Homo sapiens: one gene and its partners. The protein of the gene in region 2 purifies or fractionates together with the protein of the main gene of each other region. This does not show direct contact. Each region holds a gene or a part of one and is shown on either strand. Other genes may lie near its edges. The genes, in order: TC2N, GPBP1L1, KANSL2 and PDCD2L.

Region 1 (7,923 bases), on a different chromosome or scaffold from region 2:
CTTGCAGCTTCTGGGCACAGGGCTGGGCTCTGCAGTGTATGGGAAGTGATTGTCCAGCCCATCCCTTTTCTTCTTCACACTGTTTCCTCTAACAGTGCCAATATCTGTCCCTTGCACTGACCGCGAGCATCTCTCATTAGGTGGGTGCTAGGAAGAAGTGAAACACACATCAGCCTCTTCTGATACCTGCTGTGCAGTGAAAAAAGCCTGGGGCTTGGGGTCAGAAATACCTGAATGGAAGCCCTTGGTTCTGCCCAAGACTAGCTGGGTAACCCTAAGCAATTATTTAACCTCATGGGACCTCAGTTTGCTTACTTATAAAACGGGGAAGTAATGAGTCATACCTTTCATACAGCACTTAGACAAGGACAGCCAGGGCCCCCCCACCTGGGTCCTGTGCTTTTAGATCAATATTTCTCAATACTTAATGTGCACACAAAGCCCTGGGGATTGTGTTAAGCCACAGATTCTGGCTCAGTAGATCCTAGCCCTGAGATTCTGCATTTATAAGAAGCTCCCTGGTGATGCCCATGCTGCTGGTCCAGGGACCACACTTTGAGTGGCAAGGCCTTTCAGGGTTTTATGAGAATTTTTTTTTTTTTTTTTAGCTGGAGTCTCGCCGTTGTCCAGGGTGGAGTATAGTGGTGCGATCTCTATTCACTGCAACCTCTGCCCCCCAGGTTCAAGCAATTCTTGTGCCTCAGCCTCCCAAGTAGCTGGGATTACAGGCACCTGCCAACATGCCCTGCTAATTTTTCTAGTTTTAGTAGAGATGGGGTTTCACCATATCAGCCAGGCTGGTCTCCAACTCCTGGCCTCAAGTGATCCGCCCACCTCGGCCTCCCAAATGCTGGGATTACAGTTGTGAGCCATGGTGCCTGGCCATTTTATGAGGATTAAATAAGCAGATGTACATAAACATGGTTAGAAGAGTGCCTCACACATGATGGGTGCTCAGTTGATGTCATTCCTCTCTGCCTTCCTCCTTGAAAGTTTTAGAAAAAGACTCAGTGGAGGAGAGAGTTCACGCGAAATTATTAGGACCACAGTGATCAGGTTACAGAATGGTGAAGCTGGAGATGACTCTAGGGTGCCTAGAGGGGGGTTCTTAAATTCCACCTTTCCCAGGCATCACCTAAAAATATACTGACATAGAAAATCTTGGAATGGGCCCCTGGAATTGTTAGTTTAACAAAAAAAGTTCCAGTAGCCTTTGATGCCTTTTTTTTTTTTTTTTTAAATTACTGATCTGGTCCAAACCCTCATTTTATTTTTCCTCAAAAACGTTTTTTAAAACTTTTATTCCACTTTCAAGAGTACATGTGCATGTTGGTTGTATAGATAAATTACTGTGTCGTAGGAGTTTGGTGTATATATGATGTCATCACCCAGGTAATAAGCATAGTACCCAGTAGGTAGTTTTTCAATCCCCTCCCTCCTCCTGCCTCCCACCCTGAAGCAGGCCCTGGTGCCTGTTTTTCCCTTCTTTGTGTCCATGTGTATGTACTCAATGCCAAACCCTCATTTGAGAGATGAGCCCCAGAGGGGTGAAGTGACAGCCCTAAGCCATGCAGAAGTTTCAATCAATGATTCGTTCATCATTCAATATATGTTTTCTGAACACCTTCTGTGTTCAAGGCACCATGCTGGCTTCTAGGGGGACTCAGTGGTGAAAAGCCTGACCCCAGTACCTGTTCTTACAGAACTCATAGCCTAGTGGGAGCCTAGATATCAGACACGGATCAGGTAGACAGTATGGACAATCATACATGGTCATAAATGCTTTCCATCCTGTACAAAGTAAAGGCTGCAGCGTCAGAGGTCGCAGGGGGACCTGACTTAGATTGGGGAACCAGAGAAGGCTCCTCTTAGGAAGTGACCTTTCAGATGAGACCTGAAGGGTTTGCAGAAAAGAACCAGGTGGAGAGTGGGCAAAGCCAGGGAAAGAGCATGGCACAGTTGAGGCACCGAGGGGGTGCCAGTTTGACTGACGGAGGCAAGGGAGCGCCCAGGTGGGGCTGCAGGGCCACCATGCAGGCCTTTTCTCACTGGTGTTCCCCGGTTCTGTCCATAGCAAACGGGCCCCATCAGTGCCACCCTGGTGATGACACGCCCCATCAAAGGGCCCCGGGAAATCCAGCTGGACTTGGAAATGATCACTGTCAACACTGTCATCAACTTCAGAGGCAGCTCCGTGATCCGACTGCGGATATATGTGTCGCAGTACCCATTCTGAGCCTCGGGCTGGAGCCTCCGACGCTGCCTCTCATTGGCACCAAGGGACAGGAGAAGAGAGGAAATAACAGAGAGAATGAGAGCGACACAGACGTTAGGCATTTCCTGCTGAACGTTTCCCCGAAGAGTCAGCCCCGACTTCCTGACTCTCACCTGTACTATTGCAGACCTGTCACCCTGCAGGACTTGCCACCCCCAGTTCCTATGACACAGTTATCAAAAAGTATTATCATTGCTCCCCTGATAGAAGATTGTTGGTGAATTTTCAAGGCCTTCAGTTTATTTCCACTATTTTCAAAGAAAATAGATTAGGTTTGCGGGGGTCTGAGTCTATGTTCAAAGACTGTGAACAGCTTGCTGTCACTTCTTCACCTCTTCCACTCCTTCTCTCACTGTGTTACTGCTTTGCAAAGACCCGGGAGCTGGCGGGGAACCCTGGGAGTAGCTAGTTTGCTTTTTGCGTACACAGAGAAGGCTATGTAAACAAACCACAGCAGGATCGAAGGGTTTTTAGAGAATGTGTTTCAAAACCATGCCTGGTATTTTCAACCATAAAAGAAGTTTCAGTTGTCCTTAAATTTGTATAACGGTTTAATTCTGTCTTGTTCATTTTGAGTATTTTTAAAAAATATGTCGTAGAATTCCTTCGAAAGGCCTTCAGACACATGCTATGTTCTGTCTTCCCAAACCCAGTCTCCTCTCCATTTTAGCCCAGTGTTTTCTTTGAGGACCCCTTAATCTTGCTTTCTTTAGAATTTTTACCCAATTGGATTGGAATGCAGAGGTCTCCAAACTGATTAAATATTTGAAGAGAGCTTGTGTTTGGTTCATTTTGACATCATAGACGAGTCAGCCTTTGGGGTTCTAGTTCTGTTTAAACCTGTTTATTGTGCGCTGGCTTAGAAAGCTCTCCAGAGAGCTAGGGCATTATCTGTGACTCTGGCAAATTGATGGGAGGGGGGCGGTGGGGCAGAGAAATAGGGGTCGTGGGGAAGTTAGGGGGAGGCATCATCCCTGAGTCCTGTTTCATCTGATTAGAAAACAACCAACAATCCTTCTCTTACGTAGATTATTTCCGGTGCTCCTGCAGAACAGGAATGTATTCAAGTTACTTTAAACCAGTGGCCTTCAACCCTGGCTGCATAGACGGATAACCAGTAGAACTTTGGAGGAAAGATTGATTCCCCGGGACATGCCCCCAGACACTCTGATGTCATTGGGCTTAGGTAGGGCCCGGCCATCAGGATTTTTGAAAACTTGACTATGTAGCCAGAGTTGAGAATGTATTGTTATAAACCCTAGAAAGAGAGGTGGACAGATGGGGCTGGAGCCCTAGCTGCCTTGCCCTCAATGTCTTTTCTGCTCATTGTAGGATACATTATTCTTTTCCTGGTCAGGGCCTCTGGACATCCTTCAAGTCTTAGAACCCTGTGCAGGGGCCAAGAGAGTCAACATTGCAAGTCACAGGAGAACAGGTTGGGATGGCTGTCTTTATGTGCCATCCCAGGAATCAACCCAAGGCTTCAGGAAAAAAGTGCACTCCCTGATAGCTGAGGTGGAGTCTACAGATCCATCTGAGGGTGCTCCCATCCTACCTGTTGGTGAGGTATTCATTAAGGACCCCCACAGTGCCTATCAGGAGTTGTGTCCTGGACCCCTAGTCTTAGTAGGCATTCCACAGATCCTTGTGATATGGACAGGAGACAGGGAAATACTGGGTAGAAGAGGGTGGTTCCCTGGCAAAGGCCCCACCCTCAAGCCTGGGTACCCATGGCCCTAAATGAGGACAGCCATTCCTGTTTTCATCCCTAAAAAGTTGCCTTTTGGCCTGCCATGTCCCCTATCCTGTACCCATATAAACCCTGAACCCCAGGCTCCAGGCTCCAGAAGCAGACGGGGAGACAAGAAGATGAGCAGACATGAATGGCAGAAAAGCACGGCAAAGAAGGAGAGAAGAGAAGGAACATTGGGAGGAATTCGACTGGAGACGATCTGAAAACTGGCCACTGGATGGCCAAACTCCAGGGGAAGATCATCTTCCCACTCCATCCCCTGTCCAGCTCCCCATCCATCCTACTTAGAGCCACCTCCACCACTCAATAAAACCCCTGCATTCATCCTGCAAATCCATGTGTGACCTGATCCCTCCGGGATGCTGGACAAGAGCTCGGGATACAGGAAACTGTCACACTGGCCCTCTGCCCTGGCAAAAAGGGAGAGGGTCCACTAAGCTGGTTAACGCTTAAGCTGTCCACGGATGGCAAGGCTGAAAGACTGCACTGTTTCAGTGCCTACTCGGGCTTTGGAAGTCACAGACACCGACCCCGGGATGCTGTCATGGGGCTGGGGCCCAAAAGTGCTCACCCTGGTTCCTGCACCTGCCTGTCTGCGTGCTCCCCTTCCCATAAGGGGTTTTAGCTTGGGGTGGCTGAAGAGAGAGCCACACCCCTGTTGCACATCCTGTGAGGGGGCCAGGGAATTCTCCTGTTCCACTTAGTAGTATCTTAGGCCTTCAGTGGAAGGAAACAGCATGTTCCACGCCCTGTAGCATCCAAGAAGCTGCAAGTCCTCCCTCCTCACCCCAAGAGCATTTCTCACACCCACACCACACACCTCACTTTGCTGTTGGCTGTGGTTATTTTTTTCTCTAACTAAGCACATCTAAACCATGCCTAGTTGTGGTTCTTCAGTCAGGGTCAAGTGGTGTTAGCAATCACATCAGCACCAAATGGCTCAGGATGCTCTGGTTTCAAAGCTTATAAAACAGAGGGTGATTCCCTTGGGACTCACTCAGCTCGGCTCCGAAAAGCAAAGGCCAGAAGGCAGCAGTGAGCCTGGGTCCCTGCTGTGTAGGGAGACTCAGGGGCTGGGAAGAAGGATGGAATCAGAAATGCTGAAGGTTTACGTGAGCTTTGCACCGAGCGCCTCCGAACCACTGCCTCTGGGCTCAACAGAACACAGGGGTAAGTCTCCATGAACTTCTCAAAAAGAAAACTGGGAAGCTTTCTGTCTTGATGATTTGAGGACCCACTGGTTTCAGAGGTGCCACATTTGGAACCAGATCCGAGTCTTTAAGGTTTGTGTTTTATTTGTTCATGTCAAAATGTGGCTTCCTGCTTCTAAGAAAAGAAACTCAGGCTCATAAAAGCAGCCTCCAAGGGCTTCTTGGACCTCAAATTGCGCTTTCAAAATGTGGTCTGATGGGTTCAGTGTAAATGCACCAGAGGCATGTGGGATCCATTTACCTTAAAATACACTTGGGCCTAAAAATTAAGAGAAAAACAGTCCAGGGCAAAGTGTATACTGCAAAGTCAAGCTCCAAACATTTGGGAAACAGTTCTAGAGGCTGCTGGAACCCCAAATGCTACTTGCTTTACCTACCCCTTGGGAATCATCAAATGTTATTTTTTGTACAAGACTGGGGATGAGCCTGCTCTCTGATCCCAGTGCTGTGCTCTGCTGTGCAGTTCTAATGGGGCAGGCTGTTTCCTGGACCCTGAGATCTCCAGGCTCCCTGTGCCTATTCCTTGTCAGCTTTGCCCCATCCAGGAGCTGGGCTGAGCTTGTCAAGTGACCTCTGCTTTGTACCACTCCATCAGGTCCTGAAGAATGAAGGGTACCAAGGTGGAAGGGGCGCAGGATTAAGAGTAGGGACGCCTGCAAAAGCTCTCGTGTTACCACCTCATCTTCCAACTTTCATGTGGGTGAAAACGTTCATCCTAAATAATTGCTTCTAATTCTGAAGTTTTGTGATTCCTTGAAATGTACTTTGGGGATGACAGCCAGCATTTCCATTTCACTGCAATTTCAGAGTTTTGCAGTGGTTTGCCAATCATAACACTTTCTAATTGGCACAAAATCCACCTACCTGTTGCCTCTCAGGCTTGGGTAACATACTTCAGACACTTTCTTAGGTAAGTCTTGGCCCTTGGGGTGTTATTTGCCCAGATGGTAAAAACATTTAAGTAGGTCTGATTATTTCATTTTCAGTGGTTTCAACGCATTTTTGTGGCCTGGGTGGTTACTGTAATGTGCCCAAGTTGTTCATTCTGAGCCAACGGGGTCACCCACAGAGAGAAGACTTGACAAAGGAACTCTCCTCTACTCCCCTCTTGCCAGATGAAATATTGTTTGTAAAAGGTCTTTGTCTTGAGAGGATCACATACTTTGGTTAAGAATCCACTTTGGTTAAGCCGGTTGCTGGATTCAGAGACATGAACAGGATAGACAGTCCACCGATAACTTTATAATAACACCTTTTTAATAACACCTTTAATAACTTTTTAATAACTTTAAAAGTTATTAAAACTTTATAAAAAGTTAATCTAAAACTTTAATAACTTTTTAATAACACCTTTAGCCAGGGGTTTATGCAGCATACACGACAAAACTGGAATATAATGTGGTAGGTGCAGTAGCAGGGTCCACAAAATTATTTTAGTTAGATTTTAAAAATTATTAAGACATCTGTTTTATACAAGAAAAATTCTTATGAAAATTTATAGACATGTGTTTGAAATTTAGAATAAGTTGCCTCTGCTTAGAATTATTAAGTATTTTGAAAGGAAACACTAATAAATGCTAGATAAACTTTTTCTTTTTGATACAATTTGTGTTTACTTTAAATGCAATATTTTTTTATCTGAAAAAAAACGTGAGCACTTAGCAAATCTCTTCATTATTTTGGAATTGGCCAATGCTTATAAACTACAAACAAATATACAGATTGTTCCTTGTGCTGATATTTTTGTTTTCAAATTTCTTAGTCCTGTTACTTAACAAATGGCTGATATCTTTGTTGGAATCCCTGAACATAGCTAAAAGATGTTTTTTTAAAAAAAAAAAAAAAAAAAAACCAAGAGGCTCCAAGACAAAGGAGTGCACAGAGGCAAAATTTATCACTTTGGTAGCTTTTGCGGGGATGAAAGCCTCCAGTTAGAATGTTTGACTTACTAATGGTTCTTAATAATGAATCTTAGCCAGCAGCCATCAGAGAAATAAATCATTAAAGTGAGAAAATAGGTGTCAACACAGGAGTGATCTACTGAATTGCCATTTTGGTGTTCTTTCAGAGGGGAACTGCATGTTGACAGGCAGTGACTTTTTCAGGAATTTGGGATATTCTTGAGCAATAATGTAAAGATGAAGGCAGGGGGCTGGGCACAGGGGCTCATGCCTGTAATCTGGGAGGCCGAAGTGGGCAGATCACTTGAGGCCAGGAGTTCAAGACCAGCCTGGTCGACATGGTGAAACCCGTCTCTACTAAAAATACAAAAATTAGGTGGGAGTGGTGGCACACACCTATAATCCCAGCTACTCAGAGACTGAGGCAGGAGAATTGCTTGAACCCAGGAGGCAGAGGTTGCAGTGAGCTGAGATTGCACCATTGCATTTCAGCCTGGGCAACAGAGCGAGAGTCTGTCTCAAAAAAAAAAAAAAAAAAAAAAGATGAAGGCAGGGTAAATTGTACACACATACAAATACAGTGCCATTATGATACCTGTTTATTAGGATTTGAGAAATTAATTAACATTGATTTAAGGCCACAGAGTCATTGGATCACTTGATTCTGTTTAAAAGAAGTTTTCGTTTGGGTAGGATTGTTTTGGTTTCAACCTGTTCCTTTTTTCTAAGTCTTCGTTTCCAACCTTCTACTCAGAATGAATTTGACATTGCAAAACTGGCTTG
Region 2 (7,307 bases):
AGCCCATAACAATATATTCTTAAACATTCATATATATGTATGTTTAAATATTCGTGTGTGTGTGTGTGTGTGTGTGTGTTTATGTGTATGTGTGTGTATATATATGTTTGTGGTTTTTTGTTTTGTTTTGTTTTGTTTTTTGAGACAGAATCTCACTCTGTCGCCCAGGCTAGAGTGCAGTGGTGCGATAGGAATCTGTATTTCAAACCAAACCTCATCTGTGGCATTGGGATCTTTGGCATTTACAAATTGGACTCTCCTGGTTTCTTCATTAGACATGTTGATAGCCAAGAACATGGGAAGTCTTTAACATATCTAAATGATGGGTTTAGAATCCAGTATTGTAGGATTAAGATTGATCGATGTACCTTCTCCTCTTTGCTAATGGTGTATACCTTTGCTCCAGTTTGCCTCATCAGAGGGTTTCATGGCAGACTCCAATCCCTGATTACCTCATCTCTCTATTCTCATGCTGACAGGAGCTGCTACTTTTAGGTGTTTTTTTTTGTTTTGTTTTTGTTTTTTTGAGTTAGGGTCTGACTTTGTCATCCATGCTGGAGTGCAGTGGCACAGTCATGGCTCGCTGCAGCCTCGACCTGGGCTCAAGTGATTCTCCCGCCTCAGCCTCCTAAGTAGCTGGGACCACAGGTGTGCACCACCATGCCTGGCTAATGTTTGTATTTTTTGTAAAGATGGGGATTTGCCACAGGGTTTGCCAGCCCAGGCTGGTCTCGAACTCTTGGGACTCAAGTGATCTGCCCACCTCAGCACCTCCAAGTGCTGAGATTACAGGCATGAGCCACAGTGCCTGGCGCTTGGATTTATTCTTGTTGGGTTCATGCTTAACTGATCACACTGTCCATCAGACATATTGTGCCCCTGAAGGACTGCTAACATCTTTGGACTTCCTGGCTGATTTATAAATTTAGTATCCAGTTCCTCATATGCTGCATTTTTTTGTACAGTTCCTGAGTAGTCTCACTTTTGAGAGTATCTATTAAGTGCATACCAGGGAATGTTTAATCCCTCTGTCTCAACTGTCAGCTGTTTTGTTGACTAAGGCCTTTGTATAAACTATGCTTCATGTTACACAACAGGTTTGACATTCTGTTGTCTCTCCACTCTTGTACTTCACAGAAAACCCGCCTAGTGCCAAGCAACCCTCCAAGATGCTAGTTATCAAAAAAGTTTCCAAAGAGGATCCTGCTGCTGCCTTCTCTGCTGCATTCACCTCACCAGGATCTCACCATGCAAATGGGAACAAATTGTCATCCGTGGTTCCAAGTGTCTATAAGAACCTGGTTCCTAAGCCTGTACCACCTCCTTCCAAGGTATGATTTAGAATCAGGGCAAGAACCTTATACAAGAGAGGTTTGGGAATAAATCAGGAAAAAATTAATAAATTTGTTTTTTCTTGCCGCATCAGTCACCAGATATTCTTTCAGTACCTGTTATATGTATACAGCTTTCTTTGCTTTTTTTTTTTTCTTTTTCTTTATTTTTTTGAGACAAGGTCTCACTCTGTCACCCAGGCTGGAATGCAGTGGCACAATCATGGCTCAGTGTGACCTCAGCCTCCCAAGTAGCTGAAACTACAGGGGCACGCCATTATGCCCGGCTATTTTTTTTATTTATTTTATTTTTTGTTTTGTTTTGTTTTTTTGAGATGGAGCCTCGCTCTGTCACCCAGGCTGGAGTGCAGTGGCACGATCTCAGCTCACTGCAAGCTCCACCTCCTGGGTTCACACCATTCTTCCTCAGCCTCCCGAGTAGCTGGGACTACAGGCGCCCGCCACCACACCCGGCTCGGTGTTTTTTTGTATTTTTAGTAGAGACGGGGTTTCACCGTTGTTAGCCAGGATGGTCTCAATCTCCTGACCTCGTGATCCGCCCGCCTCGGCCTCCCAAGGTGCTGGGATTACAGGCGTGAGCCGCCACGCCCAGCCATTTTTTTTTTTTTTTTTTTAATTATTTTTTGTAGAGACAGAATCTCATTTTGTTGCCCAGGCTGGTCTCTATCTCCTGGCCTCAAGGAATCCTCCTGCCTCAGCCTCCCAGAGCGCTGAGATTATGGGCGTGAGCCACCACACCTGGCCCCTCTGGTTTTCTGTAATAGCAACAACATCCTAATCACTCAGCTTGACTATCTTGGCTACTTCTCTTCTCTTCCTCCTTAGTCATTCTCCTCAGCCAAGGAATTACAAAGTCCCTGTTATTCTCTCTATGCTGTCCTTGTTCAGGACTTTGTCTTCTCACATTTACTGTTCTAGTATACCTTTCTATTTTCTCATGTCTCTGTGTCCTACAGAACTGCCAGAATGATCATTCCAAAAACAATTGAATATATCACATGCCTTCCTGAATTCCTTCAGTGGCTCCAAACAATGTATGGCAGGGATTGGTAATTTTTTTCTATGAAGGGCCAGATAATAAATATTTTAGGCTTTGCTTGATATATATGATTTTTGTTACACATTGCCTTTTTTTTTTCCAGCTCTTTAAAAATGTAAAAATAAGTATGAGCTCATGAATCATACAGAAATGCCTTGGTCAAGATTTGGCCCATGGGTCATAGTGTGCTAGTCCTATAGTCAGTGTGCAGAGTAAGCAGAGGTCTGTGAAGTTTCTCATAGCCAAACTCTAATCCATCTTTTGCATCTTATTGCCCCTTTTTTCTCTTACCCGGGAAGAAATTATTCTTCTGGCGCATGCCATCCTCTCTGTGAATAATTTTCTTTCTTTTCTTTCATCTATTTATTTAAAATAGTGATTGGGGTCTCACTATATTGCCCAGGCTGGTCTCGAACTTCTGGGCTCAAGCCATCCTCCCACCTTGACCTCACAAAGTGCTAGGATTACAGACGTGAGCCACCGTGCTCACCCTCTGAATAAATTCACTGGGAGTTACTATCCTAGTGATAATGATTGGAGTTTTCAAGGTAGATTAGATATACAAGAGAAGAGGATGGAAGAAGAGAAGAGGATAGAAGAGGAGTAAAGAATGGGATAGTACTGAGAAACTAGTTCAGAAAAAAATGGTAAACTCTCACAGAAATACAAGTGGGTGAGTTTGCAATAGCAACAGGGGTAACAAGTTGAGGAAAATAACTGAGAAAAAACCTTAGTGATTATCTTAGGAGACTTTTGAGTTGATGTTTTTAGGGAATAAAGTAGGGCTGAAACAGTATTTCAAGGGCTTTTGGAAATATGTGGAGGTAGTGGCACCTTTTAACCTTGACAGTAAAAGGAACTAGATAGAATATAGGCAGTGGAAAAGATAAGTGAATGGATGAGGAAGTCTGTTGGAAGAAGCCACTGGAAGCAACTTGAACTGTACTTGGAAGAGATCATTAAAGGATTATGGGCCAAGAAGAAATATGTGGGAATAAAACTAATTGACAAGTACAGTTATCTTTGAAAAGGGTTTAGGATACTTAGGGTTTATTTTCCTCTGATGTAGAAGGGAAAGAATGTGAATTCAAGTGAAGAGAGCAACTATTACAAAGAAACAGCTGAGCATGGAAGTTAACTGCCGGGCTATGGAATAGACAGATTTCACCTTACACCTTCTTCATCTTACGTCCTTGAGCAAGTTTCTTCACTTCCCAGTCTCAGTTTCTTCTTCTATAAAATAGACATAACAATGCCCCCCTTTTTTTTGTGAGGAGTAAATGAGAAAATTTTATGAAATACCTAAAACTGGCATATAATAAGTGCCAATAAATGGTAGCTATTGTTACCAACCTGCCAGCACAACTTATGTTTGTCCCATTTCTTGAGAGTTTATAAAGACTTTCTTAAGTGTTACTTTAAGATGTCTGCAAGCATTCTGCAGGACTACAGAAAATATAAAAATGAGTAAGAAAATGTCATTGTGTCCTCAAGGATCTCATAAATCAAAAGGTAAAAAAATTTTTACAAGGATAAAAATTATGATACAAAACTTAAGATCACTTTAGCCCTGTTGTGAGTCAGGGGTAGAATGAAGATTGGAAAACTAATATAAAGGCTGCTGCTCTTGAAGCTTGAAGAGGATGGTAACAGTTGGCAGAGAATGGCAGAGATGGTAACAGTTGGCAGAGGTGGTAATGGCAGATAGTGGGAGGCAAATTAGGCAGCAAAAGAAAACAGAAGACATTCTTCCTGGGAAAATTGGGGTAAATATGGAAGGTCAGGTTTCAGGAAATGTGATTGTGGTTCTGGGTACGTAGGATATGAGATGTTAGAGGGAGGAAGAGGTAAGATAACTAATAAGCAGATGTTGATTTATCCATTCATTTTATCTAAACATTAGCAATAATTATTGAGTATCTGAGTAGTAAACACTGTGTCACTAGAGACACAAAATAATACTTGGCCTGTAATCGCAAAGAGTTTACTGTCTAGTGAAGAAAGAGTTATTTGAAAAAAATTGTGCTTCTCTGCCTGGGGAGGGTCATCAAAGTCTTTACGGATAACTGGGATTCAAATACATGATAAAGGAAAGAGAACTGCCATTTGTTGACATCTTACTATGTTGCTTGGTTAGGGCTTTTACACATATTAAAGCATTTACTCTTTTAATCCTGGGATATAGAGAATACACACTGTGGGGTTACATAGCTAATAAGTGATAGAGTCAGGCTTTTAACTCAGGTCTGACTTCAAAACCAGGGCTCTTTCTACTGTTCCAGAATGCCTCCTGTCTTGAAGGATGAAGAATAGAAGAGGAAGTTGAGAAATTAATCTTTTGACTCAAACTTAACTAAGTTGAAATCTTTGTGACACTTTCTAGGGTTGTGATCTTAAGCAAGTTATTAGATTTTGCTAAACTCTTCTTGACAGTAAATTGGAGCAAGTACTTGGAATATAGTTTTTGAAACATCCTAATTACCCAGTAAGTGGACGTTTAAAAACAGTAGTACAGTAGTTCATTAGAAAGCAAGTAGGTAGGGCATTCTCGGCAGAGGGAACCTGTTGTTAACCAGAAAATGGATGCAGAATATGGTATGTTTGGAGTAAAGGAACCATATTGGTTCGGTATGGCTGGTATGTGAAAGTGAATGGGGAAGTCAGACTTGATGGAGGCCTGTATAAAAAGAACAGGAGAGAAGTTAAAGTAGGTAGAGATGCAATTTTACATATTATCTACACAATTTTAACATTTTAAACTGAAACAGTTATAAGTAATTGCTTTTTCTAATGAAATTCACCTAGTTCAACAGACTACAGAAGAAGAAGAGTACTGAGTCTGGAATGCTAGTATACTTACATCCATTGAAAAGAAGGGAATTCAAGAGGTAAAGAGAGAACTGAGAGAGTGAAGCATCAGGAAATCAAGAAGGGAAAAAGGGACAGGTTCAGAAAATATTCATAATGAGCAATATCGCATTTCCCAAAGAAGACAGGTTTTTTAGAGCTGGCCTTTGTAATATAAGGATGAAAGTTTTGGTTATTTATGAAAGAGTTTTACTAAAATTGGGGATAGAGGTGAGTATTGCAGGGAACTAAGCAGTAAATAGTTAATGAACGAGTGAAAGATAATGTATACTGACTTACTCAGAAGTTTGGCAATAAGAAGGTGGTATATAAGATTGAGGGAAAATAAGAAGTCTGGCCTTTTTCTCCTAATTTCAATAAGGTGGATTAGCATATTTGATAAACCCAAAAGGAAAGAGAAGAAAGTGCTAGAAAGGGAGGAGGACATTCCTTTGAACTTGAGGGGCAAACGGCAGAGGAGGTGGGAGAAAGTTTGAGCCCAGTGATTTTAGAATTTTTAGTCCAGTAGAAGAAGATTCTGAAGTGGAGCAAGCTAGGGTTGATTCAGAATTTAGAGGAAAAGGAGAGAACATTTAAAAAACAACAACAAAAAAAACTGGTTATACAATTCACTTTAATGGACTTTTACATGTATAATCATCTAATAAAAACAGGTGTGGGGCATAATGATTTTTCCAGGGGGTAGTCTAGCTATCTCATAGGGTTTAAGTTACTGAAAATTAAGTTGAAATAAAATTGGCACAGACATAGATATTCTGTTTTATGTAACAGAGTAAATCTTTTGTACTACTGTGGCAGAAACCCAAGTGTTTCTGTGCTCTGGAGTGACATTGTTTTAAAGACAGGACATCTGGTGACTACAACTCAGGGGAAGCCACAAATCATCTTTGAGAGTTAACCTGACACAAGCAACCATCTTTAGATTTTTATCAATGCAAGAAAAAAATTAATCTTCATTCTGGTTGGGTCATCGTTTCTCTTATCTGCTTGCTTGTTCTTTGTGGAGGCATTTTGGGATAGTGGAAAGGTGGTTTCATTTACTAGCTGAATAACCTTGAACAAATTGTGGAACTTCCTTATTGTCAGTGTCATCCTCTATTAAAAGTCAGCGTAACAATTATTATTCCTGATTGGTTTAAGAATTAAATAAAACAGACTGACCATCACCTGGTACATGGTAGATAGTAAAGTTAATTCCTTTCCTAAAGCTATTATTGTGTCTTCTTTTAATACCCATCAATCAAGAAAGCAACCAGGAAGGGAATCCATTTCACTCAGGCCCCTTTGTCCTGGAGGTCCTCTGTTCTAAGTGTTTCATTCTGGAAAAATAAGTTGGAAGTTTTTCATTTGCTTCAGCACCACTCCACTGGCTTGCCACATCTTCCTTGGTCTCCTTGGACAGTGTGGTAACTCAGTATTCCAGCTTTCTATCATACTTGGGGTTATGGCCAGAGTGACAGAATGGGCCCAGACCCTGCAGAGTTGAGTAGACGGGCCTCCAGACTAAATAAATCAGGATTGTTCAACCATTTACAATAGCCACCCTGGCCTGGAACTAGCCTTTTGCCATCAGAGTTCCTGGAAAGCAGCAATTTTGTGATGCACTTTGTGGGCTATCAGGATTACATCCAAAGTTAACAAACACTACTAAAAAAAGTTTTGGGATTCAATAAATTAGGAAAATGCTGCATAACTGCCTCTCAAATTCTTATGTGCAGTTAAGTGCTTTGAGAAATTGCACAGTGAAGAACCTTGTTGAACTTTTTTCACCCCGGCACCTCCCAAACTCATTGAACTATTGAACTAGAGCCCTGTTTTTGGGAAGTCACTATTAATGTCCAATGGCTCTTCTGTATCCCATCTACCATTTTCCTTGAAGTGCCTAACCTCCGAAAGAGGTTGCATACTTCCCAAACATGTTAAGACAGGTAAGCCCTGGAAACTTATGTTCTCATGTAACATTTCACTCTTTGCTTTATGATTTTATAAGCTGAGCTTCTGTTTGTGTGCTTGTTCTGACTGATTTGTTCTTTCACCCTGTGTAGCCT
Region 3 (8,303 bases), on a different chromosome or scaffold from region 2:
CTATCAGCTTCACTGTCAGGGTCACCTCTCCATGTCTGATCCACAGTAATGGGTTCCTGCTCCCCATCACTCCAGCTGTCTTCATCTGAGGCAAGGAAGGGAGAGCAGCCATTAAGACTTCCCACCTCTGTAACTCCACCACACAAAACTAGATTACTTTTATCAACCCAAACCTTGAAATTTTAAAAACAAAACAAAAAAAAAAACACTTAGTACAAAGGTACTGGCAAATAAAAACGCTTTAAGAAAATACAACCCAAGTAAGATTACTTACAACATAAATGAGTAAACCATGCCCTCTCAAACAGAAAAATCAACTTAAAATTACTGTTTCCTGAAATTACCTAACAAAGCTGCTGAGCATTAAAAAAGCAATGAAAGAAATGGTCACCAACTCAGGAAAGTAAACCTAGGCAAACACAACTTCAAATTCAAAAGAACTGGTAAACAACAAAGCAATCCCAGCATTCTCACCAAATTCCTGATGAATTAACAATATTGCCAAATAGATCAAGGCATTGTGCTAACCCAAAATAGTTCCCCCTTAACTTTCTTCCTCCTTTTTCATTCCAGGAGAGAAGGTCCTTACCTAGTATTCGGCTGGCTTCACTGCGACTACTTTCTGGAGTCTGAGACCCCAGCTCTGTCTTAGCATATGAGCTCAGCTGGCACAGGAGTGTTTCACCCACAGGCCCTGGGTTGGTCTTCTTCATTTGAGCATGAAGTGCCAGGGCATTCCTACGGACATGTTCAGCACAGAAGGACACCCTGAAGAGACAAAACATTAATATTTTATAAGTTCCTTCTTGAAAGCGTTCAATAATGTTCACAGTCCCTAATCTTTAAATCATTTTTAGGGAATTAAAATGACTATTACATTCATTTCTAAAAATGCAAGTCAGAGGAATTTAACTGGCCCAAGGTCAACTCATTTGACTTTATTAAAGGGAAATAACAGGACGGATGAAGTGGTTCACCCTTGTAATCCCAGCACTTTGGGAGGCTGAGGCAAGGGATTGGGTCTTGCTCTGTTGCCCAGGCTAAAGTGCAGTGGTGCAATCATAGTTCACTGTAGCCTTAAACTGCTTGGTTCAAGCGATCCTCCTGCCTCAGCCTCAAAGTAGCTAGAACTATAGGCATGCACCACTGTGCCCAGCAAATTTTTTTTAGTTTTTTGTAGAAACGAAGTCTATGTTGCCAAGTCTGGTCTGGAACTCCCAGGCTCAAGTGATCCTCCCACCTCAGCCTCCCAAGTAGTGGGGACTACATGTCCACGCCACTATGCCCAGCGAGTTTTTTAATCTTCTGTAGAGACGGGGTCTCACTGTATTGCCTGGGTTGGTCTCCAACTCCTGGCCTCAAGTGATCCTCCTCCCGTGGCCTCCCAAAGTGCTGGGATTACAGGCATGAGCCACTGCGACCAGCCAGGGACACAATTTTAAAACTATAAGATACGTAAAAAATTATCTAGTCAGGTTATGTTTTTGCATGGATACCTTTGCATACATGATGAAAACTATGAAGCCTCTTACAGAAGAATACACACATATATAACTTTGCATGTTATTTAACAAAATTCATGGACAGCCAAATAGAGCCACACACCCCTCCATTAAGAAGAATTTTAGGGGCCAGGTGCGGTGGCTCACTCCTGTAATCCCAACACTCTGGGAGGCCGAGGCGGATGGATCACCTGAGGTCAGCAGTTCAAAACAAGCCTGGCCAACATGGTGAAACCCCGTCTCTACTAAAAAGTACAAAAATTAGCCGGGCATAGTGGCGCACGCCTTAAGTCCCAACTACTTAGGAGGCAGGAGAATCGCTTGAACCTGGAAGGAGGAGGTTGCAGTGAGCCGAGATCTCCACTGCACTCCAGCCTGGGGAATAAAGCAAGAATCTGTGCGCCGCCCCCCCGCCAAAAAATTAACTTTAGGGCCGGGCGCGGTCGCTCACGCCTGTAATCCCAGCACTCTGGGAGGCCGAGATGGGAGGATACCTTGAGGCCAGGAGTTTGAGACCGGCCTGGTCAAAATAGCAAGACCCCATCTCTCTTAAAAAAAAAAAAAAAAAAAAAAAGACTAATTTAGAATATGCCTTTATTTTACAGATAAGGGAAAAGAACCAAAGAGGTGAACTAAGTAATCCAACTCAAGGGTCTTTCCAGTCTTCACCGTTTTTTCAGTTTTCCAAGGATACAACCATAACCCCAAATTTACAAGGACAAAATCTCAAACGCGGCAGCTATGCTGAAGCCCGCATCATATCACATACCCCCTCGCTTTAAGAAAAACGACATATATATCTATACATATATACCCATCTTTCTTCTCTGGCTTTGGGGCAGCATTGGGACATCTTTTTCCATTCTTCGTCGATATATAACTACACTGCTTGAAGGGTGCATTCTTGTCTTCAAGGATATGCTTAATGCAAAACTCCTGCCCCTCCAGACGAGGGTGAGAGCATGGACGATGAGTGAATGCACAAGACAGAGGTTCCTGAGACCTGGGCACTGGAGTGATCCTCCCCCGATTGGTTGGCAAGACGTGAATCCGAATCCTGTTCATAACCAAAACCTGCGGGGTCAAACGAAAGACCAAAAAGCCCTTACCCTTCCCGAAAATTCCTGCTCCACACAGATCGCGCGGACAGTTTCCAAAGGACATGCAGAAGTCGTCCCCGTAAGGTACGCTCCGTAAGTCCCCGCCGCCCTCCCCAAGTCTCCACAGGCATCTGTGGCTTTGCCTCCCTTTAGCGTGTCCCTCCATGCCCGGCCCCACCCCGAACCACACCACGCTGAATGTATCTTCAGGACTCGCACAGCTGCAGCACGAAGGGAAGCGACAACACCAGCCCCACGCGGCGGCCACGCCGCCTCCCCGCACGCCGCCTTTGTCCCGGCCTGCCTCAGAGCGCACGACTGGGCCTGGCCTCGGAAGCCTATGCGAGCGCCATTTTGTCCTACGGCTCCAGTCACCGGAGATCCTGGCTCCTGGAAGCCTGCAGGAAGGAGACTGACTCTGACACTGCTTTGAGGCGGAGTAGCAGCTCTGAGCTGACAAAAAGAGCGAAATAGCAGCCCAACCGCAAGAGCTTAGAGGAAAGAGCACCGCCATCTTACCTCAGGAGCTGCGCTGCGCCGCACTCTGCCGCGCCGCTCGCCCTTCTCTAGTGGCGCCAGCGGCTCTCAGATCGGCCTCGCCCCTTTCCGGACTCCTGGCTACTCATTGGCTACCGCTCGTATGACAGGATGTCGCCATTGGCCGAGACCAACTACCTATCGTGTCTGGGAGGGCGGAGCGCTGAGAAAATGCGAGGTTGGGGTGGCTAAGACAGACTGTCTGTCAGCAACTCCGCCCGGAGGAGAGTGAGCCGGGGAAGGGGGCGGAGAGCGGGCTGCGGGGCGGGTTGCCAGCTAATATTTTTCCACCTTGCAGCGTGGCTCGTTTTCCGGCTACTTTTGGACCCTCAGTCTGTGGTCCTAGGCTGCTGTTCCCTCACCACTGTACACAGCTAGTATAAAATCAGACAGACAGGCCGGGCGCGGTGGCTCACGCCTGTAATCCCAACACTTTGGGAGGCTGAGGCTGGCAGATCACCTGAGGTCGGGAGCTCGAGTCCAGCCTGAGCAACATGGAGAAACGCCGTCTCTACTAAAAATACAAAATTAGCCGGGCGTGGTGGTGCACGCCTGTAATTCCAGCTACTCGGGAGGCTGAGACAGGAGAATCTCTTGAACCTGGGAGGCGGAGATTGCGGTGAGCCGATATCGCGCCATTGCACTCCAGCCTGGGCAACAAGAGCGAAACTCCGTCTCAAAAAAATATATAAATAAAAAATAAATCAGACAGAGGCTGGAGGATCACTGTTTACACATAAAAAGTCTTTAGCTTTCTTTTGTGAACAGTTCAATACATGTACTGAACATTTGGTATAGAGAACACTGAGAAACATTTTTTGGGTGTTTACTGATTCTGGGAATTACATGTATAAAGTCATTGAATTTTTCAAAGCAACCCTAAGAGGTACAGGTTAGTATTATGTCCATTTTACAGATAAGAGGACTGAGGAACAGAATGGGACCATAGCTATTAAATGGGAAAGGAAGACGAATTTGAACCCAGCCCGCATTCTTTATCCCTTATTGCCTCTTATATAGTAAAGAGCATTGGACTGAGAATAAGGAAATATTTGTTCTAGTTTAGGGCTGCTTCTCATAACTGTGTGCCCTGTCTTTAAAATTCCATGCTAAATAATGCAGGTATCATAAAAATGACAGACACAATACCAATCATACCATCCTTTAAGGATTTTTAGTTTAAAAGCATCTTTCTGTCATCTCCACCACTTGTAGAAATGATTCCTAGCTTTCTTCCCATAACCCTTCTAGACATTTTTTGCTTTCCAGCATCTCTTATCTCCTCACTGTCAGTTTAAGAAAGATGTTTTATCCATGCCTAACGAGCAAGTGAGCATGAGTCCCAGTGGAAGTGAACATAAAGATTCCACAGCCCTCAAGAAAAACACTAAGGCTGGGCGTCATGGTTCACCACTGTAATCCCAGCACTTTGAAAAGCTGAGGTGGGAAGATCACCTGAGCTCAGGAGTTCGATCCCAGCCTGGGCAATATGGAGACACCTCATCTCAAATAAATAAATAAATAAATAAATAAATAAATAAATAAATACACTATAGGACCGATAAATTATTAAAAAAAAAAAAAAACCTTGGGGGTTGTGCTGTTTCCAGAGACTAGAGCAGCCCTAGAAGAAGGCCTGAAATTCATTCATTCAACGAATATTTATTGAGCACCTAAGTGCCAGGAGAGAACAAGGAAGATAACCCTGCTCTCTTGGAGTGAACATTCTAGGATAGCTTTGGATTATGGATGCAATACAAACATAATATTAATAACAATGATTTATATACATAAGCAAACAGACCAACCCTCAGGAGTACGAAAAAAGATGTTTTGTTATAAACACCCTATAATTAAAAAACAGCCAGAGGCAGTCATGTCACAGAAAATTTGGGAATCCGAATCTGCAACCAAATGTAGTAATATCAAAAAGCAACATTAAAACTACTGTAGTGAACAATATGAAGAGACACAGGAATAGATGGGGAAGAAACAAAAGACTTTCTTTCAATGAATTTACTGAAGGTCTTAGTTGAAAAAAGAATCCTTCTTGTAAGTCCAAGACAGACAAAACATTACTATTTAGAACCACTTCTTTTTTTTTTTTTTTTTTTTAGCGGGAGTCTTGCTCTGTCGCCCCGGCTGGCTGGAGTGCAGTGGCGCGCGATCTCGGCTCACTGCAACCTCCGCCTCCTGGGTTCAAGGGATTCTTCTTCCTCAGCCTACCCCCCAAGTAACTGGGACAACAGGTGTGCGCCACCATGCTCGGCTAATTTTTTTATATTCTTAATAGAGACAGGGTTTCACCATATTGACCAGGCTGGTCTCCAACTCCTGACCTCGTGATCTGCCCACCTCAGGCTCCCAAAGTGCTGGGATTACAGGCGTGAGCCACCATGCCCGGCCTAGAACCACTTCTAAGTGAAAGGAGGGAGCAGATATTAAGAGCTCAAGATGTCAGCAAATTCTTTGTTCTGTTTAACAAAGTAGATGGCTTTTTTTTTTTTTTTGAGATGGAGTCTTGCTCTGTTGCCCAGGCTGGAGGTAGATGGTTATTTTTAATTCACTGAACACTTTGTAGCTATTGAAGAGGTTAAAGTAGACCAGAAGCTATTTGTAAATAGGGATTAGGAAACTAGAGTTTGGGGGGCTAATCCTAGAGAAAAGTGAGAAAAAAGATGAAAACGGCTGGGCGCAGTGGCTCACGCCTATAACCACAGCACTTTGAGAGGCCGAGGCGGGTGGATCACCTGAGGCGAGGAGTTCAAGACCAGCTTGGCCAACATGGTAAAACCCCATCTCTACTAAAAGTACAAAAACTAGCCAGGTGTGGTGGCATGTGCCTTAATCCCAGCTACTTGGGAGGCTGAGCAGGAGAATCATTTGAACCCAGGAGGCAGAGGGTGCAGTGAGCCAAGATTGTGCCACTGTACTCCAGCCTGGGTGACAGAGCAAGACTGTCTCCAAAAAAAAAAAAAAAAAGTTATCAAAGACCTTCACCTTGCTAATTCTAATGAAGTTTTCAGGCATCATCTTATTAGACCACTTTGCAATGTCTAACACACTTGGCCACTCCTCCTCCTTAGAACTCTATACTCTTTCTAGATCTCCATACTCTTCCTAGTTTCCCATCTACATCAGTCACCCACTCTCTGTCTCGTTTCTCTTTTCCCCAATTCTAAACACTGAACATTTCTATTTTCTACTACTACTTCCTTAGTTATCTCACTCTGTTTCATCCCATTCATAAGCTGTTATCTCCCAAATGCATATATCCAGCCTGGATCCCTCCTTTGAACTTGACTCTCTAGTCATCTGTCCAGTAGGCATCTCCACTTGGATGTCTAATTGGCATTTCAAATTTAATGTTAAAGCCAACCTCCCGCTACTCCCGTAGTCATCTCTACCTGAGTATATGACAACCCCAACCTTCCAGTTGGTCAGGACAAACACTGGGAGTTATCCTTCACTTCCTTCTCTTCCACCTCATAGCAAATCCTATTAGCTCCATCTTCAAGCTGTATCACTTCTCGGCTGAGCAAGGTGGTTCACACCTGTAATCCCAGCACTTTGGGAGGCTGAGGCGGGTGGATCACCTGAGGTCAGGAGCTCAAGATCAGCCTGGCCAACATGGTGAAACCCTGTGTCTACTAAAAATACAAAATTAGCCGGGTGTGGTGGCACATGCCTGTAATCCCAGCTACTTGGGAGGCTGAGGCAGGAGAATCGCTTGAACCTGAGAGGCGGAGGTTGCAGTGAGCTGAGATCACGCCATTCCATTCCAGCCTGGGCAACAAGAGCAAAACTCCATCTCAAAGAAAAAAAAAAAAGATACATCACTTCTCATTACCTTGGGTACTTCCAACCTGTCCAAGCCACCCTCATCTCTTACCTAAATTGTGAGAGCTCCTTGCCCTTGACTCCTATGATCTATTTTCAACACAGCAGCCCAAATGAACATTTTAAAACCTAAGTTGGATGTCATTTCCCTTCTCAAAACTTTCCAATAGCGTCTGTTCCATTCACTGTCTTTATACAAGGTCCTGTTGTATCTGGCTTTCTATTGCCTCTCTAACCTCATATCCTGCTACTCTCCTCTCTCCAATACCCCCTCCCCACTCATTCCTATACCAGCTACACTGGTTTCCTTGCTATTTCTCAAACATACCAGCATATTCTCACCTCAGAACCTTTGATGTCTCACGTTTCCTGGAATGATCTTATCCTAGTTATTCCCATGACTTGCTGTCACCTCCTTCAGGTCTTCCCTAAAGGTCATGAAGCTTCTGGTCATGAAGCCTTCCCTAGCCACCTTTTTTCCAATTCCCACAGCCCTAGTTACCTAAACACACACACGTGCTCACACACACACATGCACACACACATCCCTATCCCCTATTCCCTGTTTTAGTCTCCAAAGTGCTTATTATGGCCAGGTGTGGTGGCTCACACCTATAATCCCAACAAGAGTGAAGGAGGCCCAGACGGGCAGATCGCTTAAGCCCAGGAGTTCAAGACCAGACTGGGCAACATAGGGTGACCCCATCTCTAAAAAAATTAGCCAGGCGTGGTGGTGCACACCTGTAGTCCCAGTTACTCAGGAGATGGGAGGATCACTTGAGCCTAGGGAGGTCAAGGATGCAGTGAGCTGTTATCTCACCACTGCACTCTGGCCTGGGAGACAGTGAGACTTCGTCTCAAAAAAAAAAATTTTTTTTAAGTGCTTATCACCACCTAACATACTATGTTTTACTTATTTGTAAATTCTTTGAAGGCAGAATGTTTGTTTACTGCCATATTCCCATTAGTACAGTCCACAGCACTTAGTTTTTTTTTTTTTAACTTTTTTTTCCCGAGACTGGGTATAGATCTATAGCCCAGCAGGAGTGCAGTGGTCAATCATGGCTCACTGCAGCCTCCAATTGCTGGGCTCAAACAATCCTCCCTCCTCAGCCTCCCTAGTAGCTGGGACTATACACTACTGTGCCTGGCTAATTTGTATGTCTGTGTGCAGAGATGGGGTCTCACTTTGTTGCTCAGGTTGGTCTTGAACTCCTGGCCTCAAGCAATCCTCCCACCTCAGCCTCCGAAAGTGTTGGGAAGTAGGTATTATTTTCTAAAGAAGGAATGAATGAAAAGCAGGGGAGTGCTTCAAACCACACCA
Region 4 (5,577 bases), on a different chromosome or scaffold from region 2:
ACATGGCTGGGAGTGTTTTTATACTGCTGTTATGGGGCTGAAGGGAAGGGGTTGATCATGTTAAAAATAAAGAAAGGGGAAGACTGGAAGGCAGCTGGATAAAGGGACAGTCTCCAGAACGGAGTAAAGACCCCTTCCTGGGATACTGCAGGAGCAGAAGATGGGAGTGGGTGAGGGCGGGGACCTGGGCTGATGAACATGGGCAGGTCTAAACAGCCAGGGTCACAGAGCAAAAACCTCCAGCAGCTAGAGCAGGTTCAGTGGCTTGATCAGGTGCCAGAAACAGCATAGGAAGCACTGGAGTGCACGTGTCAGAGGTGTACACAAGAGGCTGACCACTGCTCTTGGCTCTTTCGCTGCTCTCCTCCCCCCTAGAATGCCCACCAGAACGGCTGTGCAGACAACACCAGCCCTCTGGACTAGAGAGGAGCTACCTTCCTAGCTGCCACTGTGACAGCTGGCCCTGGACCCTGGAAGGGCAGACCAACCCACAGTCAGGAGGTCCTGGCCCGGCCCCGGCCCCGGCACCAGCACCCAAAGGCAAAAAGGCAACTCAGAAAAACAGAGGTTAATAACTTGTGAGTTAAAATAAGGTACATACAAACATATTTGGATGTAAACATTTGTTTTAATTTATATTAATAAAAGGAAATGCTCTACTTAAACAATAATTCATCTGGGTCTTCTTGTATAATACAAAATTCTTCCATGGGAGTCTGATGATTTGGGGGCCAGCAACTCTTCTCACATGTGTAAACTAGAATTGTTCCAAATTCCACAGAAAGACCTGAAAAATACCACATATTCAGGCTTCCAGCAAAAAGAGTTATGAGACTGATGTTACTAAAAGGAATGATTTTACCTTATAAGCTGAAAAAGTAATTAGGTAAAGCAAAAACAGTGCTTACTGCTTTCAGCTATAACAGAATCACAGTCTATCCTATAATAAGTGAATATTGATAACAAAAAAGCAAAATTAATTTAAAGTGGCAGGAAAATATACTTTAAAAATAAACAAAAATTTCAGCAAGTGTTCATTATAACTGTCTAGCTATCTGATGTTGAAAATCTATATTAATCTACATGGTTCATGTGATATACATAGCTTTTGGCTAGGTGCGGTGGCTCACAACTGTGATCCCTGCACTTTGGGAGGCCGACGGGGAAGGACAGCTTGAGCCCAGCCTAGGCAACATAGTGAGACACCTGTCTCTACAAAAAACAAAACAAACAAACAAACAAACAAAATATATATATATCTCATATAGCCTGGGCAACACAGTGAGACTTTACTAAAAAAAAAAAAATTCACTGGGTGTAACGGTGCACACCTGTAGTCCCAGCTACTCAGAGGAGACTAAGGCAGAAGGATCACTTGAGCCCAGGAGATAAAGGCTGCAATAAGCTATGATTGCACCACCGTACTCTGGCCCGGGTGATAGAGCGAGACCCTGTCTTAAAAAAAAAAAAAAAAAGAAGAGAGAAATATATATCATAGGACACACTACTGCCGAGAAAGGATAAGGATTCAGGCAAAAAATATAAAATAAACCCTAAGAGTTTACAGAAAATTATCAATGAATAAAGCCATTAAAAAAAGATACCAAGAAAACATAAGCAATAAGAACTCCTGATATTAGAACAGAAAAGCAGGAGTCAAGAGGATGACGTAGGCAATGATTTGCAGCAGCAAAGGAGAAATACATTGTTTAAAAATGTATGCATTGGCTGGGCACAGCACATTGGCTCATGCTTGTAATCCCAGCACATTGGGAGGCTGTGGTATATGGATCACCTGAGGTCAGGAGTTCAAGACCAGCCTGGCCAACATGGTGAAACCCCGTCTCTACTAACAATACAAAAAATTAGCTGGGCGTGGTGGTAGGCACCTGTAATCCCAGCTACTTGGGAGGCTGAGGCAGGAGAATTGCTTGAACCTGGGAGGCACAGGTTGCAGTGAGAAGAGATTGTGCCACTGCACTCCAGCCTGGGCAACAGAGTGAGACTCTGTCTCAAAAAAAAAAAAAAAAATGAAAAAATGGCAGAGTTTAACTGGTATATGACATTCCTCTAGGAGCATCTGACTGGTAAGGGAAAAGCGCCTCAAGTGAGCAAGTCTACAACTCCAGTAAACACACTGCGCATGCGGCCTCTCCCAAGTGCTGGAGGGCCACTATGCATGTGGACAGCCCACCCCAAGGGAAGAAACAAGAGAAGTAACCCAAGACCCAGGAAGTATAAAACCCCAAGTCAAAGGTCAAATGGACACTTGAATCTCTCAGGTTGCCTGCTTGGCCCTCTTCCAACTATATTTACTTCCTTTCGTTCTTGCTCTAAAACTTTTTAGTAAGTTTTCACTCCTGCTCTAAAATTTGCTTCGGTCTCTCCTCTGTCTTATGTGCCTCGGTCAAATTCTTTCTTCGGAGGAGGCAAGAACTGAGGTTGCTACAGACCCCTACAGATTCACCGCTGCTAACAGTATTGTGGCAAAAATGTTAGTCACAAAGGGGGAAAAAATCAGACCACCCTCATACCTCTACAAAGCTACATTCCATGCAAAAGACATTTCTATATGAGTGAAAAATCTCAGAGACTAGAATGCCCATAAGCCCTTCCAGAAAAATATATTTCCCAGTGAGACTGAACCACCAAGAAATGACAGGAGGCACCAGGGCAAAGGGCTGGCAGGGCTTTCACTGTCAGAAGACAACACAGGGGTCTATACAAGGTTCTGAAAAGAGAAAGTGGGATTTAAAAATTTTATACATGGGTTGCCCCTCAAATATGAAGCCACATTACCATGCACAATCTGAAGCAAGATACCTCTGAGCCCTCCTTAAAGCTATTACTTGAGAAAATCCAGCTACTGCAAAAAGAATCAAAATAAAACAGGAATAAAAAAGCTCACTCTAAGAGTGGTGATAAACACTGAATCCATTTACACATAGAACTAAGGCTATCCAAATAGCTGTGATAATTATGATACTGGCCAGGCGCGGTGGCTCATGCCTGTAAATCCCAGCACTTTGGGAGGTCGAGGTGGACGGATCACTTGAGGTCAGGAGTTCAAGACCAGCCAACATGGCGAAACCCCGTCTCTATTAAAAATACAACATTAGCAGGGCGTGGTGGTGGGCGCCTGTAATCCCAGCTACTCAAGAGGCTGAGGCAGGAGAATCGCTTGAACCTGGGAGGCAGAGGTTGCAATGAGCCGAGATAGTGCCACTGTACTCCAGGCTGGGCGACAGAGTGAGGCTCCATCTCAAAAAAAAAAAAAAAAAAAAAGATACTGGGTCCAGGCACGGTGGCTCATGCCTATAATCCAAGCACTTTGGGATGCCGAGGCAGGTCGGGAGCTTGAGGTCAGGAGTTTGAGACCAGCCTGGCCAACAACAGTGAAACCTGTTTCTACCAAAAATATAAAAAATTAGCTGGGTGTGGTGGTGGGCACCTGTAATCCCAGCTACTCAGGAGGCTGAGGCAGGAGAATCACTTGAACCTGGGAGGCAGAGGTTGCAGTGAGCCGAGATAGCACCATTGCACTCCAACCTGGGTGAAACTCCGTCTCAAAAAACAAAAAAGATACTGAAATATTTCAAGGTAGGAATAGGGTATAAATTTCCTTATCTACTATGGTAAGGAGCCAGATGCATACTATCTAAAACTGAAACACAGAAAGAATGTTATTTTCTGTTAATAGCAGAAGCACCTTTCAGAAACTTGGGCCTCTTAGGTAAAGAACCTATTACCAAAAGTCCAGGCCAGGCGTGGCAGCTCACGCCTGTAATCCCAGCACTTTGGGAGGCTGAGGTGGGCGGATCACAAGGTCAGGAGATCAACACCATCCTGGCTAACACAGTGAAACCCCGTCTCTACTAAAAATACAAAAAAAAATTAGCTGGGCTTGGTTGCGGGCGCCTGTAGTCCCAGCTCCTTGGGAGGCTGAGGCAGGAGAATGGCATGAACCCGGGAGGCGGAGCTTGCAGTGAGCTGAGATTATGCCACTGCACTCCAGCCTGGGCGACAGAGCAAGACTCCGTCTCAAGAAAAAAGAAGGAAAAAAAAAAAAATCCAGTAACTGCTTCACTTATACTTAACATTCCTTCTGTTAATTTGTACAAAAATTTGTTCTAAGACTTTTAATTACCATATTAGTGAATTTTCCTATTTTAGGAAAATTATTTTCGTCTAGCCATCCATACATTCATCTGACTTGCTATTTGTCTTTATGTCAAAAATGATTGTTGGAATAATGGTTATTAACATTGATAATAGTTTTAATTTCTGGCCAGGCATGGTTCATGCTTGTAATCACTTTGGGAGGCCAAGGCGGGAGGATCGCTTGAGTCTAGGAGTTCGAGACCAGCCTGGGCAACATGACGCAACCTTGTCTCTACAAAAAATACAAAAATTCCATCCTGGCCAACACAGTGAAACCCTATCACTACTAAAAATACAAAAACTAGCCGGGCGTGGTGGCGGGCACCTGTAATCCCAGCTACTAGGGAGGCTGAGGGAGGGGAATTGCTAGACCCCGGGAGCTGGAGGTTGCAGTGAGCCAAGAACGTGCCACTGCACTCCAGCCTGGGCGACAGAGAGAGACTCCATCTCAATAAATAAATCAATCAATAAATATTAAAAAAAAAAAAAAAAGACTGGCTGGATTATAAATTTCTTTTTTTTTTTTTGAGACAGAGTCTCCTCACTCTGTCGCCAGGCTGGAGTAGAGTGGTGCGATCTTGGCTCACTGCAACCTCTACCTCCTGGGTTCAAGCGATTCCCTGCCTCAACCTCCCAAGGAGCTGGGACTACAGGCACGTGCCACCACGCCCAGCTAATTTTTTATATTATAGTAGAGACAGGGTTTCACCACATTGGCCAGGATGGCCTCGATCTCCTGACCTTGTGATCCACCCGCCTTGGCCTCCCAAAGTGCTGGGATTACAGGCATGAGCCACCACACCTGGCCTAAATTTCTTAAAATAATTTTTTAATTCCCAAATTTTCTGTAATTTGCTTATGATATTTTATAAGTAAACAAAAGGTTTTTCATTTATTTAAAAATAATGCCAGAAATCCACAAACTCAAATTAATAAAGGGCTTCTCACCTAAATTAGCACTCTTGAGCATGCTGACCAGTGCTGGCATAAGCTGAAACTCAAATATCCTTTGGCCTCCACACTGGCTGCAGGCTGGGAGCTCGGTGACTTCTGATGTAGGGCAGGTCAAAAAGAGTGGCTCTCCACTCCAGGAATACCTAGGACAAGGAAACAAAGAACCCCGAATCAGAGCCACACAAGTCGCATTCTAGCATCTAAGGCCATGCTTTGCAACCTTTCTTTGTTTCTTGCAGAAATCTCCCAGAGGCCCAAAAACCTAGCACCATGGCTGTAAAGCATAGCAAGATATCTGGAAATCTTGTCAGTGTTCGATTCAAAGTCTCAAAGGCACTAAAGTCAATGTTCAACTGAATCTAGGTAAAGCTGCAACAAAGTCCAGACTCAGCTCCACTGCAGATTAAATGGAATCAGCCCTCCACATCACTGGCCTTACAGAGGAAAGGGCATGCCTTAGAG

The links.
Region 1: the proteins of GPBP1L1 (region 2) and TC2N purify together in Homo sapiens (affinity purification with mass spectrometry; 2 studies listed by BioGRID and IntAct, with this or other methods). This does not show direct contact.
Region 3: the proteins of GPBP1L1 (region 2) and KANSL2 purify together in Homo sapiens (affinity purification with mass spectrometry; 2 studies listed by BioGRID and IntAct, with this or other methods). This does not show direct contact.
Region 4: the proteins of GPBP1L1 (region 2) and PDCD2L purify together in Homo sapiens (affinity purification with mass spectrometry; 2 studies listed by BioGRID and IntAct, with this or other methods). This does not show direct contact.

What each region holds. Positions count from the first base shown.
Region 1 is NC_000014.9:91,864,537-91,872,459, reverse strand, and holds the start of TC2N (tandem C2 domains nuclear protein), read left to right. Parts: upstream 1-4,923; 5' UTR 4,924-5,198; intron 5,199-7,923. Other genes in the region: FBLN5 (fibulin-5 isoform 2 precursor), read left to right, coding at 2,075-2,236.
Region 2 is NC_000001.11:45,634,234-45,641,540, reverse strand, and holds part of GPBP1L1 (vasculin-like protein 1), read left to right. Parts: intron 1-1,137; coding exon 1,138-1,331; intron 1,332-7,304; coding exon 7,305-7,307. UniProt on the Homo sapiens protein: Possible transcription factor.
Region 3 is NC_000012.12:48,679,066-48,687,368, forward strand, and holds the start of KANSL2 (KAT8 regulatory NSL complex subunit 2), read right to left. Parts: upstream 3,174-8,303; 5' UTR 3,122-3,173; intron 2,577-3,121; 5' UTR 2,568-2,576; coding exon 2,317-2,567; intron 769-2,316; coding exon 590-768; intron 86-589; coding exon 1-85. UniProt on the Homo sapiens protein: Non-catalytic component of the NSL histone acetyltransferase complex, a multiprotein complex that mediates histone H4 acetylation at 'Lys-5'- and 'Lys-8' (H4K5ac and H4K8ac) at transcription start sites and promotes transcription initiation.
Region 4 is NC_000019.10:34,421,200-34,426,776, reverse strand, and holds the end of PDCD2L (programmed cell death protein 2-like), read right to left. Parts: intron 5,259-5,577; coding exon 5,110-5,258; intron 788-5,109; coding exon 657-787; 3' UTR 609-656; downstream 1-608. UniProt on the Homo sapiens protein: Over-expression suppresses AP1, CREB, NFAT, and NF-kB transcriptional activation, and delays cell cycle progression at S phase.